2 linked regions of the Homo sapiens genome follow. The gene in region 1 interacts genetically with each later gene. Each region holds a gene or a part of one and is shown on either strand. Other genes may lie near its edges.

Evidence for each region. Genes that interact genetically often act in the same process or in processes that back each other up.
Region 2: of KIF2A (region 1) and TSNAX, changing one suppresses a phenotype caused by changing the other (phenotypic suppression), as found in Homo sapiens cells (one study listed by BioGRID).

What each region holds. Positions count from the first base shown.
Region 1 is NC_000005.10:62,301,248-62,309,207, reverse strand, and holds the start of KIF2A (kinesin-like protein KIF2A), read right to left. Parts: upstream 3,003-7,960; 5' UTR 2,736-3,002; coding exon 2,672-2,735; intron 900-2,671; exon of another isoform or gene 697-899; intron 1-696. UniProt on the Homo sapiens protein: Plus end-directed microtubule-dependent motor required for normal brain development. May regulate microtubule dynamics during axonal growth. Required for normal progression through mitosis. Required for normal congress of chromosomes at the metaphase plate.
Region 2 is NC_000001.11:231,523,683-231,531,673, reverse strand, and holds the start of TSNAX (translin-associated protein X), read right to left. Parts: upstream 3,006-7,991; 5' UTR 2,864-3,005; coding exon 2,848-2,863; intron 2,420-2,847; coding exon 2,315-2,419; intron 1-2,314.

The sequences.
Region 1 (7,960 bases):
AAGGTGAAGGCTGAAAAGAACGAAAATTGCTTCAAGTTCAATAAATTTAAATAAAATATGCTCCGTAGAAATTAAAATGTATAAATCAAATATCATATACTTTTTCTGATACGATTTCAAAGTTAACACCTATACTCATACTTATGAGTGTAAAGAATTTACACATTTTATTGCACCCTAATTTTTTAAAAAATAAATTTCATTGTGCAACTGAGGTTTACAACATGATGCTATGGAATATAGACAGCAAAATGGTGAAGCAGATTAATATAGCTATCATTTCACATACTTTAACAAGAGCTGCTAAAATCCACTTATTTAACAAAAATCTCTAATACAATTTTACTAACATTGGTCCCCCTGTATCTCTAAACTTGTTCATCCTACATATCTGCTATTTTGTATCCTTGACCTATATCTCCCCATTTCCTCTCCTTCCCCACCACCAGTAGTAACCACTGTTTCGTTCTGTGTATTTTAGCTCCTTAAAAAAATATTCTACATATGAGTGAGATTATGCAATATTTTCCTTGGTGTCTGGCTTATCTCATTTAACATAACGTCCTTCAGGTCCATCTATGTTGTGGTAAACAGTAGGATCTCCTTTTTTAAGGCTGAATAATGTTCCATTGTACATTGTCTATACACACACATAAACGTATACACACACACATAATTTCTTTAGCCATTCCTCACCCATCGATGGACATTTAGGTTGCTTCCCTATCTTGGCTACTGTGAATAATGCTGCAATGAACGCGAGAGTGCAGATATCTTCACAAGGTGGTGATTTCCTCTCCCTTGGGTGTATACCAGGGACAGGTGTTGCTGTGCACCCAGAATCTTCAAAATAATATGTAAATCCTACTTTTGCTGGTATACTGTGAACTCGTATTTACCTAAAAAAATGACATTAACAGCACTCTTTCAAGAAAGTAATCTGAAGAGAAAATATAAAAGAAACCTCAACCCAAGTAAAGAAGGTATCTCTTTCCCATTAGTGTTATTGGTAATTTCTAAAGCTCTAAGCGGTATAATTTATCTTTTCATATACAGGATAACGATGGTTTCAGTTGTTACCACAAATTACTTCAAATATAACGGAGGAAAAAATCATTAGCTATATAGGGTCTTCCAATATATCATACACACAACATGAAAATCAATCTAGCTTCACGTAACTTGGTCAAACCTGGCAGAATCCAAGGGGCACGTGGACGTGACAGCCAAGTTACTACTGACTAGGCTAGGCTAAAGGTTAATAAATAAGGCACTCATAAAAGGAATCGAGGCCAGGCGCGATGGCTCACGCCTGTAATCCCAGCACATTGGGAGGCCGAGGCAGGTGGATCACTTGAGGTCAGGAGTTCGAGACCAGCCTTGTCAACATGGTGAAACCCCGTCTCTACTAAAAATACAAAAAATTAGCTGGGTGTGGTGACAACGCCTGTAATCCCAGCTACTCAGGAGGCTGAGGCACAAGAATAGCTTCAACACGGGAGGCGGAGGTTGCAGTGGGCCGAGATCGCACCACTGCACTCCAGCCTGGGTGAAAATCCGTCTCAAAAAAAAAAAAAAAGGAATCGGTATGAGAGATGGAGTCAGGAACACTGCTCAACTCGAGATTATCACACATCTCTCGTTCTTTCAATATTGGTACCGAAAGAAAATAATTTTACTTATCTCCCTCCGTGCATTTATTCCTTTACAATATGAATTATTTCCAGTCTGGCTGGCGTATCTCACTCCACACCCCAAGCTAGTGTCATAAACCATTTTCCCCAAGAGAAACCTAGAGAAAGATACATAAGCCTAAGGCTCTTAAAAAAAAAAATGAAGCATGTGTCTTCACCTCGCCTTACACTTTTCTCAGTTACCTCTCCCGAGGGTGTGAAAATATCAACATCCGGTCGCCCACCCCCACTCTCTCAGCAGTGCCTCGCATTGACTCTGCCCATCCCCTATCATTCCCTTTACAGTCTCATCACCTTGGAGAAGCCCATCGAATATTTCTTCCCATTGCTCCCCCACCCTTATTCATGGCTCAGCGCGATATTCTCCACATTTTTCTCCCAAGAAGTGGCAAAAAAGAAAGCAGCATGGTCGACGACGAAACCGGGGAGGCCTGACAACCAGACGGCAGTTTAAGGCGACGGAACTGGCTCTTTCCCCCCATCTCGGCCTCCGACCAGCAGTCGGTTCTCTAAATGTGAAATCGCTGGTCTTCCCGCTCCCCCACCCCCATCCCCATCCCCGTCAGAGGCCAAGCCGGTAAAATGCAAAGACCAAGGGGAAGCGCGAGGCAGGGTCATCCCTAACGAAGCCCGCTCCCTCCCGGGCTGGTGTCCCCGGGGGGGGGCTGGAGATTGCGGGAGGAGGAGCGAGCGGCCCTCGCCCAGAGACCCCCGGAGACGCGACCCTCGACACCCGGGCCCTTTCCCCACCCGGCTTCCCTCCCCCGCGGCCCGATCCGGAGAACTGCAGCAGCGCCCGGGCGGACCCCAAGCCGGCCTCACTGGCACACACGCCACACACAAAAGCGCCGCGGCCGCCGCCTTCCCACCCCCACAGCCCGGCGAAGCAATCAATGAGGCGGCCGGCGCCCGCGTCCCCTCCGTGCACACCCGAACACGGGGCCGAGCGGGCCAGCGGGGCTGGCAGCGCGGCTCACCATCGCTGCGCTTGATCTCCACGTAAATCCCGATCTGGATCTTGCCGAAGTTGGCCGTTGCCATCACCTCATCTGGAGCAGCAGCAGCGGGCCGAGGGAGGGGGACCGGAGGGCGGAAAAGGCGGGGAGGGGGCGGGGTAGGTGTGGGAGGGGGAGCGGTTGCCCGCGGCCGCGCCGGCCCGGGCGACAGCGTGAACGCAAGCGGGGCCGCAAGGAGCAGCTGTGGGGAAGCAGGCGGAGGCCCCGGGCCTGCAGGCCGGCAGGAGGACGCGCACGCCGGGTAGTCGGGGTGAAGCTAGGGCCGGGGCCGTGAGACGGCGCGGGGTAGAGTGGGAGGGCCCGCACCGCCCGCCGGGGAGCCGACGCTGGGGAGGCGGGGCGCCGCGCGCCTGCGCAGAGCGCGCCTCCGGCGTCTCTTCTTCCTTTTCGGCTGGCCTCTCCCCGCTGCCTCCAGGCGGCCCCGCCCAGCTCTGCAGCGGGGTGGGCGGCGGCCGCGGCTTACCCAGCCGCTGGAGCGTTGAGCGCTCGGCCCGGCCCACAGCTAGCCGGCGTCGCGTTTGATTTCAGCGCGCGGCCTAGAAGACGCGGGAAGCGTCGCGCCGAGCTTTCTTGCCCTCTCGCTTCCGGGAATTGGCGCTGTTGCCGGAATGGGTTAAAGGCCACGTGGTTTCAGGGGCTTTCTAGCGGGCTGAGGGATGTGAATTCAAGGGCCCTCCGTTGACAGTACGGGATCCGGGTTTTCATCGGAAGGTGGCACCCCCTATTTCCACTTACAGGTAGCTGACCCAAGCAGCCCTCCCAAGCACACTTGGTGTAGGTTTCCCATCCAGTTACGCTGGAAGGGAAGAAACACCCTTGAGGTGTCACCTACCCTAAATCGAAATGAAGATCCACCCCTTTACAGTCTTGCCTTATAGTTTATCACACTCAGAAAGAAGCTCTGTGGTGGGGCGTCCTTAACTGTTCAGGTTATGAGGCATCCGATGCTGGTGCCCTGTTTCTGCTGAGGGTTCAAGACTTACTTGCCTTGGCCTGTAAAGCCAACAACTGTGACTCAAGGGAAGAAGGCAGACACATAAGGTTGACTAGGGAATGTGTCTTTTTGCAATAATTTAATTAGTCTGACCACATCAGCAATGTGGAAAGCAAGACTCTCCATCCTGGCAGAGCAGGAAGGCCACGTGTACCGGGGCCCTGGAAACTGTATTTATAGCACCGTGTGAAAACCTCCAAACGTCTAACTCCTGCTTGTAGTACTGGCAATTGATAGGTTGGAAACAACACTTTTCATGGCCTACTTTCCCTAGTCATTGTTTTTTGTTGTTGTTGTTTTGTTTTGTTTGTTTTTGAGGGGGAGTCTTGCTCTGTCGCTCAGGCTGGAGTGCAGTGGCGCGATCTCCGCTCACTGCAATCTCTGCCTCCTGTGTTCAAGCGATTCTCACGCCTCAGCCTTCCGAGTAGGTGGGATTACAGGCCCGCGCCACCACGCCTGGCTAATTTTTGTATTTTTAGTAGAGACGGGGTTTCACCATGTTGGCCAGGCTGGTCTCAAACTCCTGACCTCAGGTAATCCACCCGCCTCCACCACCCAGAGTGCTGAGATTACAGGCATGAGCCACTGCGCCCGGCCTTCCCTAGTCATTGATAATCTCCCTGTAACAATAACTACAAATATACAATTTAAAATTTTAAAATTGGAAACTGGATATATACATCAATGCTTATGTGGATATATGTGTGCCTAGAGTTTTCTATCTAATGTAAGTAATCATGTAGGTCCTTAAAAAACTGTTAAAAGACTGGCTTCATCTGTAGCTTGAACATATTGAAGGTATACCTGTCAAAAGAACAATTCTATTGAATCCATTCTAAAGTGCATATAATTTCTATGGAAAAAAAACCACACTGGATAGACAATGTGGAAAATAACTTCTTTTACATTCCAGAAATGACACACTTGAGTACCCCGGTTTCAAGTGAAATTTGACCAAATCAGGGTTTAGTTTTTATTTTTTCTATAATTTTGGGAGTTTTATCTGAACTCTTCAAGCTCCTGTCTAGAATTCATTTTCTGATGTCTCTGCAACTGAGGTATAAAACATCTATTTATATTTTATTTATACTTTATAAAGAATGCAAAGAAATCAAGCTATACAGCTCAAAGTTAACATTGTTTCATAAAATATTATTATTATTATTATTAGAGACGAAGTCTAACTCTGTCGTGCCTAGGCTAGAGTGCAGTGGCATGATCTCAGCTCACTGCCACCTCCACCTCCCAGGTTCAAGTTATTCTCCTGCCTCAGCCTCCCAAGTAGTTGGGACTACAGGCGTGTGCCACTACGCCCAGCTAATTTTTTGTATTTTTAAAATAGAGACGAGGTTTCACCGTGTTAGCCAGGATGGTCTCGATCTCCTGACCTCATGATCCTCCCGCCTCAGCCTCCCAAAGTGTTGAGATTACGTGAGCCAACACGTCCAGCCAATAAAATATTATTTTGTATCGTGGTTGCTGACACATACCTTACACTCTGTGGTTTATATGGTTAATCTTAACCTTTAATCCATATAAAAGGTATTTTTAAAATATGTACATTGTTTTGCTCCATAAAAATGTATGACATAACACTTAACAAACACAAAACCTTTCCTTTATAAGACATACCCAAAAGGCTTACTTTTTTTGGTACACATCAGCATATGTATTTACCAAGACTTTCATTATGGGCTTTGTATGCTAGTGGCTTCCTAAAGAGCAGCCATAAATACATGCAATGTGGCTATGTTTCCATCAACATCCTGGATCAAATATTCTAACTCTGGCTGAGACATTAACAAGATATATAATCCTAACTAGAACTACTACTAATAAGATCCTGAATTAGTAACTACTAATTAATCACTAAGATATATACCCTACTAAGAACTACTGTTTTTATTAGGATTATATAGTCTGCACTCAGACATTTGTTCAATGAGTTAACTTCTTAAACTGCTCAGTATCTCAGTTACCTCTTTGATCAACCTGGAATAATAACTTACATTCTCTCAATCACAGAAAGTTTTTGTGAGGACAAATGAAATAAAATGTGATAGTGCCTTGATATTTATAATTTTTTTTTTTTGAGATGAAATCTCACTCTGTCGCCCAGGCTGGAGTGCAATGGTGCAATCTCGGCTCACTGCAACCTCTGCCTCCCGGGTTCAAGCAATTCTCCTGCCTCAGCCTCCCGAGTAGCTGGGATTACAGGCACCTGCCACTACACCCGGCTAATTTCTGTATTTTTAGTAGAGATGGGGTTTCACCATGTTGGTCAGGCTGGTCTCAAACTTCCGACCCCAGATGATCCACCCGCCTCAGCCCCCCAGAGCACTGGGATTACAGGCGTGAGCCAACGCGCCTGGCCTGTAATTTGTTTTATAAAAGTAAACCATCCTATAAAATATAACCCAGGCCAGGTGCTGTGGCTCATGCCTGTAATCCCAGCATTTTGGGAGGCCTAGATAGGAAGATCCGTTGAGCTCAGGAGTTTCAAACCAGACATTTGTATTCACATTCAGCTAAGTGAAAATACCAGGTGAAAGGCTGCTGATCACTTAGATCATGCAAAAGAGATAATATCATTTTTTTCTTAATACCTATCGCTGGCTTCCCAGAATAAAATCTGAATTCTTTACAAAACTGTACGCGATCTAGCTCTGGCTTCCTCGGCAGCCTCGTCTGGTGCTGCTCTCCTCTCACTCTGCTCCATTTTCGCAGAACTCCTTTCTGTCCCTTAAATCAGTCAAGATCTCTGATCAGGATGGCTGCTCTTGCTCATCTTTTCATGTGACTGATTCATCTTCCAGGTCTCAGTCAAAAATCACTCCTGGAAAAAGCCTTTCCTTGTCCCTCACCTTACCCCCACTTTTCTCAATCTGTCTTTCCTCCCCAACTCTAAAGTAACCTCCTCAAGGGTAGAAATCTTGCCTAAAATTCTTCACTCTATCTTTGGCACATAGAAGGGTACCTGGAACACAGCTGCTCAGCAAATATTTGTTGAATGAATGAAGGAAAAGTTTAATAATTTGTTATATGTTGCCAAATTTATAGCCTTAGGTAGTCTTTTCTCTCTGTTTGTTTGTTTTTTTTCTTTTTTTGAGATGGAGCCTCACTGTCGCCCAGGCTGGAGTGCAGTGGCATGATCTCGGCTCACTGCAACCTCTGCCTTCTAGGTTTAAGCAATTCACAAGAATCGAGATTCTCACGCCTCAGCCATCTGAGTAGCTGGGATTGCAGGCATGTGCCACCACACCCAGCTAAGTTTTGTATTTTTAGTAGACGACGGGGTTTTACCATGTTGGCCAAGCTGGTCTTGAACTCCCGACCTCAAGTGATCCGCCCACCTCAGCCTCCCAAAGTTCTGGGATTAGAGGCATGAGCCACTGTGCCTGGCTCATCTTTTCTCTTTCTGAATAAGCTCAATTGGTAATAGATTTTCTCATTAATATGACCCAGACAATCAATATTTAATGTTTCAATCATTTGAACCTCAAAAATCTCTAGTAGATATAGATTAGTGTATATGTAATAAATGTTTATAAAAATTTTAGGCTGGCACGGTGGCTCATGCCTGTAATCCTAGTCCTTTGGAGGCTGAGGCGGGAGAGTTTTTTGAACCCAGGAGTTTGAGGCTGCAGTGAGCTGTGATCCCACCATTACACTACAGCCTGGGTGATAGAGTGAAACCCTGTCTCAAAAAATAAAAAATAAAATTTTAAAACAAAAAGTGTATAAAGTAAAATGAAAGGGAAAGCCCTCGTTGCCCTCCAAGTCCCATTTTCTGGAAGTGGCCACTGTTAAGTATCATATTAATCCAATAATTCTCAATCTTTATTGGGCATAAAAGTCATATGAGATGATTGTTATGCAGACTCTTGGGTCCTATCATCAGAGATTGTGATTCAGTAGATCTAGTTTGAAGTGTAGGAATATGCACTTTTTTAACATTCACTCCAGGTGATTTTCACTCCAGGTCAGGTGATAATTCTTTTTTAAAATATATTTTACAAAAAATTTTAAGCCTGGGCAACATAGTAAAAACCTTGTTCCTGCAAAAAAAAAAAAAATTAGCTGAGCGAGGTGGTGCGTGCCTCTAGTTCCAGCTGCTCTGGAGGCTGAGGCAGGAAGATGGCTCGAACCCAGGAATTCATGGCTACAGTCAGCTATGATTGCACCACTGCACTCCCGCCTGACAGAGCAAGACCCTATCTCTAAAAATAAAATAAAATAAAATGAAATAAATTTTA
Region 2 (7,991 bases), on another chromosome or scaffold:
GTAGCTGACATGGATCTAAATATATCTAGTCTTTTATTACTGAGATAATAACTAGGCCAGGGTTAAGATAATCAATATGTATTCATTATTTATTATGGCTATATTAATGACCACTGTAAGTCAGACACTATGAACACAAAGTTAGATAAGGAACAATTCCTATCCTCAAGGAGCTCAGTCCTGTATGAGGGACAGAGATGTAAACAAATAAAATGTAATCATGCTATAACAAATATATGTAAAAAACTTATGAAAGCAGAAACCACGTTTCTTGTTCACTACTAATACATGCGAGAACATAGCAGATACTCAATAAATATTTCATGTTGGTCACCAAGTCGGCTTGAGAGAAAAATCAGAACGCATTCACAGGAAAGAGGCTACTTGAGCTAGGTCTTAAAGAAAATTGTAGTTCAGGCCAGGCGCAGTGGCTCACGCCTGTAATCCCAGCACTCTGAGAGGCCGAGACGGGCAGACTGCTTGAGCTCGGAGATCAAGACCAGCCTCCAGCAACATGGCGAAACCCTGTCTCTACAAAAAAATTTAAAAAAATTAGGCATGGTGACACACGCCTGTAGTCCCAGCTACTCAGGAGGCTGAGGTAGGAAAATGGCTTGAGCCCAGGAGGCAGAGGTTTTGCAGTGAGCCAAGATCGTGCCTAATTATTATCTCAGCCTGTGTGACAGAGACTCTGTCTCAAAAAAAAAAAAAAACCAAAAAACTGTAGTTCAGCAGACGGGTAATGAGGACACCACCTTAGAAGCAACTCCACCTTTTCTTTTTTTTGAGATGGAGTCTCATTCTGTCGCCGGGGCTGGAGTGCAAAGGCGCGATCTCGGCTCACTGCAACCTCCGCGTTCCGGGTTCAAGCGATTCTCCTGCCTCAGCCTCCCGAGTAGCTGGGATTACAGGCACCTCCCACTACGACCAACTAATTTTTCGTACTTTTTTTTTTTTTTTTTTGAGACGGAGCCTCGCTCTGTTGCCCAGGCTGGAGTGCAGTGGCACGATCTCGGCTCACTGCAAGCTCCGCCTCCTGGGTTCACGCCATTCTCCTGCCTCAGCCTCCCAAGTAGTGGGGACTACTGACGCCCGGCTAATTTTTTGTATTTTTAGTAGAGACGGGGTTTCACCGTGTACTTTATTAGAGTCAGGGTTTCACCATGTTGGCCAGGCTGGTCTCAAACTCATGGCCTCGTGATCCCCCCGCCTCGGCCTCCCAAAGTGCTGGGATTACAGGCGTGAGCCACCACACCCAGCCGCAACTCCACCTTCTGTATCAGTACGCTCTTTATTCAATTACGGCCAGCTGTCTTAAACTTCTGACGATCACAGTAGATACTGTGGTGGTTTTCAAATATATCCACAAATAACCTGAGACTCCTCCCTCCAAAGGGTGGGACATAACTTCCTTCCTCTTCAATGTGAGACAGTTTTTAAAACTGCCTCCCTTCTAACAAACACAATGTGACAAAAATGACAGTGTCTGATGTCTGAGATTAGGACATAGAGATTGTGGTTTCCTCCTTGCTCTCTTGCACTCTCTCTCTCTGAAGGAGGCCAGATGCCACACCAAAGGACATCCAAGCAGCACAAGAAGTTCATGTGGACAGGAACAGAGAGCTGGTTGCAGGCAAAAGGCCTAAACTATCAACAGCTGTAGATCCTTCAGCCCCAATCAAGGCTTCAGGTGATTGCAAATAGGAATCAACCAGCTAAGCCCTTCCCAGATTCCTTAATCACAGAAACGTAAGGTACAGGATAGTGGATAGACAGGGACAAAAGGAAGAGGATTTTGTTTTGTGTTTGTTTTGAATTGAGGAATAACTTGTCCAAGTTAATATGCTGAGAAAAGGGGACTGTGAAAATATGTGTATATAGATATGCGAGATTCACTAATAGATACAAGCTCCCACTCTGTGCTAAGTGTTACAGTTAAAACAAAGATACCGTCCCTGTCTTCAAGTCTAGTAGAGGAAACAAATACACACTAAATGAAAATATATTTTAGCATATAACAGATGAGTAAATATTATCAGGTACACAATTCTTGAGTATGTGACATGTCAAATATTAATTAATGTTTACTGTTTCTTGTGTTTAAGTCATGTTTACCTGATTACTAATATTTCTCTTAATGGGACATAAAAGTGAAGGCCTTTGTAATCCAGACTTTTAGGGTACATCTAGCGCCATCACAAAACCTCCAGCTAAAGTTTCACATTAAATTCTTAGGGACTGTTTTCTTGCGCATAACCATGGCTAAATAATTTTGTTCTCTCCCCTTCTTCAACTTACATTGCAGAGAACTTACATTTAAAGGCCAACATCACGGGTGAAGATGAATTAACATCCTTCCCTTCTCTTCTTTGGTTATGTGGGAAATTGTCATGCTTCCTTTTCCTGAACCCTCCTGATCCTTATATAGAGAAGAAAAAAAGAGAGGGATCTTCCATCACCAAGAGTTTGCAAAACACAACATAGACAAACCTACTCCTTGCTTTAAAACCAGATACCCACAGGGCCCTCGCCTTAGAGGCTTTCTCCGCAGACTGACAGAGACGCTGCCCAGGCCTTTCCAAGCAAATCATCCAAGTTTCCACCAACTGGTGCTATGATCTGGCATTACAGCAATTACTGAACTAGGATAAAATCACACCTCAAAAATTTAAGAAAAAAGGAGGTGTAAACAGGGCCGATCTGGCCGGGGAGAGAAACAGAGGGGCCGCCCCCGAGTCTACAAGGGACGAAGGCATCCTTCAAGGGTGAAAAGGGGAAAACTGCATAGAAAGACTGGAGAACCTCCCCCTCCGGATAAATAACGCCCCGTGTTGTTAAGGACGCCACCTTCTTTGTTGCTCATGTCGTCACAGCCTACGGTGAGACGAGCGGAGACTGAAGGACCTGGAGCAAGAGGAGTGCGCGAGGTACAGGCCGAGGGAACCTGGGAAAACAGCCTGCAGAAAAACGCTTTGCAGCCGGGCCGACTACAACGCAGTGGCCGGAAGTCTCCTCTCACGTACTTCCGGCCTGCGTCCGGAGGGGAGGGGAGGCCGTCGCCGCTGGCTCCGCCCACCGCGTGGTCCAAGGACCACCACCCGCCACCGCCGCGCGAGCGTACTATTGCGGCCGCCCTCTGCTGCGCCTGAAGAGAGAGGCGACTCTACAAGCCTCACAGCATGCACTGTTACTAAAAAGACGATGCGTCCTCCTGGACCTGAGATCTGTGTGATCGTGGGAAAGCGACGAAAAACGTACGTAATTTTTTTCTGAAGGCACCTTCGGGACACCTTACCCTTCCCTCAGGGGGGCCCAGCTTCGCGCGCGGTGCTGTGGGGGTTGTAGTTCCTCCGCCGGAGCGGGACCTCCGGTGCCCCGGGCCAGGGATGTGAGAAAGAAGCGAGCCCTCGAGTTTCCTCGGGGCATGTGGGAAGGTTTTTTTCAGGATCCAGGCAGAACCTTACAGAGCTGGGAGTTTTTTAACTTTCCATTCCTGGCAGTGACGCCAGGAGCTTTAAGTGATGGAAATATGCGAGTCAATCAGTGGATGGTGTTAGTACTGTTTTCTCTTATGAAGATCAAGCCTGCCCTTCGGGTCTACTTCCACCTTTTCCCCCTGCCCGTCTCCCACCGTCTCCCTCCTCTCCACTGGCTCTCAGAAGCCGGACAGCCTGTGTTCAACTTGCCTCCACGGAGTGGTTGTGTGACCTTGATGAAGCACGCAACTTCTCTGCCTCAGTTTCCTTATCTGTAACATAGGGATAGAATAGTACCCGCCTTGTAGGGTTATTTGAGGATGAAAGGAGTTAAGTCTCGTGAAAACGCTCTTTCACATATAACTGCTCAATTAAATATTAAATACCATACTCCTCTCCCACCAGGGCTCTCCCAAACAAAATGATAGACAGGTGAGTAATAGCAGCTGTGTTCCACTAAACTGTGGGCATTTCATTATGAGCAGGTGCTGCCACCATATCTAGACTTTGTGCCGCCCCTTAGCCCCAGTGCTTCTCAGCGCTGTGATCCGGTCCCATGTAAGCTTCCGTCAATGTTTGTTGAAGAATCATGTTCCTGGTGTCAGAATAGGTAACTAGATGGCAATTCAGCACCGTCTAGAGAGAAACTCAGGCCAAGGCTTCATAACTGGGGTGCCCTAGGCCTAGTACAGAAAACACAAGTACATTTTAAGCTTTCTCTAAATAACCTCTCTATTGTGGTCATGTGTTGAACACACAGTCTTTTCTCCTTGTTAATTTAGGAACAAAGGAACAGTAAATGGAGTAACTTGGCTAGAATATGGCAGTAACTACAAGGCATGTTCTGCTCTGGCACGAAGGTAACCACCACTCATACCTCTCCAGCCCTGTGAATACGTCAATTGACTAAGCAGATTCCTTGAGGATAAAGTAGGCTCCTGGGGACCTTGCTTGTTGGGCTACTTGCTTTGTGGATGTTAAACAGATAATTCTCATGAGTTTGAGTGACGTCTGATCTACCAGTATTCCCCCTACTCTGATTAGAAATGACTTGACCATGCCAAAAAGAATAAAAGACAGCTCTGATACAAATGTAGCCATTTTAATGTGACTCCCTCTAGATCCAAGGAAGCCAGTACTTACGAACATTTTCAGAGTCAATACTTACTGTACTGTACCATAGTCGAGGAAAAGGGTATTTTTCCTAACTCTCCTGGAGTAGCACATCCCAAGATCTCAACTTTCCAAAACCTGGATCAACTATATTTCTTTTCTTTCTCCAGCCACCACTCCCCTAGCCTGTTCAACTACAGCTATGTTACCTGAACTGCTTTCCACTCTTTCCCATAAATGTAATGATTAGAACACTAAGTTTCATAACCTGTAATGACTTCTGAAAGTATTTAAGGGAGGTGAATCCCAGGAGCACTTTCCCAGCACTTATTTGCATATGCATTTACCCCAGGCCTCCCCAGGTGTTCCAACTTGTAGCTACTCCTTTGTCAGGAAATAGATTTCAACTTCTGTAACAACCTGCATCCCTACCTGGTCTCCTTGTTTTATTGCTTCAGATGCAAACACATAGTTTTGGTACTTGGCAAAACAGTTTTTTGTTTGTTTTTTAAAGGAAGACAACCACCCCAAGTCAGGGAGAGGAAGGTAAAGATTTTTAGTAGGATCTTACCTCTGATGTTGTTTTTACTTGTTATTGTTGCTTTTTTTTTTTTTTTTTTTTGACACGGTTTCACTGTCACCCAGGCTGCAGTCCACGGCTCACTCACTACAGCCTCGACCTCCTCGGGCTCAAGTGATCCTCCCACCTCAGCCTCCCAGGTTGTTGGGACTACAGGCACATGCTACTATGCACGGCTAATTTTTTTTTTCTCTCCATTTTGTGGAGACGGGGTTTCGCCATGTTGCCCAGGCTGGTCTCAAACTCCTGGGCTCAAGTGATCCACCTGCCTAGGCCTCCCAAAGTGCTGGGATTACAGTGAGCCACTGTGCCTGGCCCCCTGTTGCATTCTAATTGCCTATATTTGACTCTGAATGAAGCACTAAGCCTTTCAATTGCATGGTGGTTATTCAGTTCATAAATCCTCTCATTGGTCACCATTAGATTAAGAGAAAAATCGCATATCAAAACTGGTTTGGGAGGCCAAGGCGCGCAGATCATTTGAGGTCAGGAGTTCGAGACCAGCCTGGCCAACATGGTGAAACAGTCTCTACTAAAAAATACAAAAATTATCTGGGTGTGGTGGCACGCACCTGTAATCCCCAGAGGCTAAGGCAGAAGAATCTCTTGAACCCAGGGCGGGAGTTTGCAGTAAGCCAAGATAGCGCCACTGACCTCCAGCCTGGGCCACAGAACAAGACTTCACCTCAAAACAAAAACAAAAACAAACAAAAAAAACTGGTTTTGGATATTGAAGGAAAATCATATAATCCAGTAAAGAGAAGATAATTAACAGATTATCTATTTCAGCATTTCCCTTATTTAGTTATTACATAAATAACTAAATCCTGGGGTAGAAGAGATCATGGGGAATTGTAAGAATCTGGAGTTTCTGTTTTTTAAAAGATAACCATAATATTTAAAAGATATCTGTGGGATCCAGAGTGGTATTGTGAAGTGTACACATTACCTTTATTGTGAATAAATTCAAAGATTTATTTTTCAAGCAATGCTAGGATGTAGTAGGAGAAAATGATGTTCCAGTTTTATAACACAAGAAAGAGAAGCTCATATTGAAGAAGTAAAGAGTGATGGGTAAAACCACAATGAGATATCACTTCAAATCCACTAGGATGACTAAATTTAAAAAGAAGACAGAAAATAATAATTGGTGAAGATATGAAGAAATTGGAACCCTGATCAATTGCTGGTAGGAATGTAAAATGGTCCAGCCACTATAGGAGACAATTTGGCAGTTCCTCAAAGAGTTGGACATAGAATTACCATATGACCCAGCAATTCCACTGTTAACTATATACCTTGAACACAAATGTTCATAGCAGCACTACTCACAATAACCAAAAAGTAGAAATAACCCAAATGTCTATCAGTAGATAAATGGATAAACAAAATGATATATCATTTGGCAATAAAAAGGAATGAAGTACTATTCATGCTGCAACATGGATGAAACTTAAAAACATTATGCAGAGTGAAAGGAGTCAGTCACAAAAGACCACTTATTATATGATTCCATTTATATAAAATGTCCAAAATAGGCAAATCTATAGATAGAAAGTAGATTCAAGGTTGCCTAGGGCTAGGGGCCATGTAACAGTGAGGTGGAGGGGTGATAGCTAAAGGATGTAGGGTTTCTTTGTGAGGAGACGGAAATGTTCTAAAATTGACTAGGGTGATGGTTTCACCTATTTGTGAATATACTAAAAATTATTGAATCAGTCAGTTTAAATGATGAGTTACATGTGAATTATACTTCAATGAAGCTATTAAAACAAATTTTTAAAAGTGTTGGGAAACATTCCTTTCAAGTCTTGTAAATATATTGTGTATATATATATATGTAAATTTACTATATACATGTAAATATATAGATAATTCAATGTTATTAGGAAAAAGCATTAAACAATATGGCTTAAGTTTATTTTTATTTTTATTTTTATTTATTTATTTTTTTGAGATGCAGTCTCGCTCTGTCACCCAGGCTGGAGTGCAATGGCACGATCTTGGCTCACTGCAACCTCTGCCTCCCAGGTTCAAGCGATTCTTCTGCCTCAGCCTCCTGAGTAGCTGGGATTACAGGTGTGTGCCACCATGCCCAGCTAATTTTTTTTTTTTTTTGTATTTTTAGTAGATATGGGGTTTCACCATGTTGGCCAGGCTGGTCTTGAACTCCTGACCTTGTGATCTGCCCACCTTAGCCTCCCAAAATGCTGAGATTACAGGTGTGAGCTACTGTGCCTGGCCGGCTTAAGTTTATTTTTAATACTCCATAACAAAAAAGTATGTAAAGTACTTTATAGGTTTGACAATATTTCAACAAATATTTCTGTGCCTGGTTTATGCCTGACAATGTGATTGGTGCCATACAGGATGCAAACATTTACTATCTCTACTTCTCCCATTCTTCTTGATCTAGCTCTAATCAGGCTTTCACCCCATCATTTCTCAGAAACTGCTCTTGTCAAAATCTAGGGATTTTGCAATGACTTCCGCATTGCAAAATCTGATCGTCAGTTCTAACTCCTCATCTCACTTGACCCTGAAGCAGCATTTAAAACAGTTGTCATTCCCTGTGTCTAGAAACCACATTCTCTTGACTCTCCTTCTATAATACCTCAGTAGCCACTTCTTCCCAGTCCTTTATAGTTTCTCCTTACCTCCCCAAACACTGAATTGCTGCAGAAGTCCTCCTCTCTTCTCTATTACACTTACTCCCTTGTTGATCCCATTCTTATGGTTTTAAATGCCATCTATAATCTAACAATTCCTGCACTTCATATATTCAGTTCAGAAAACTCATAAATCCAGTCCAAACTCATATC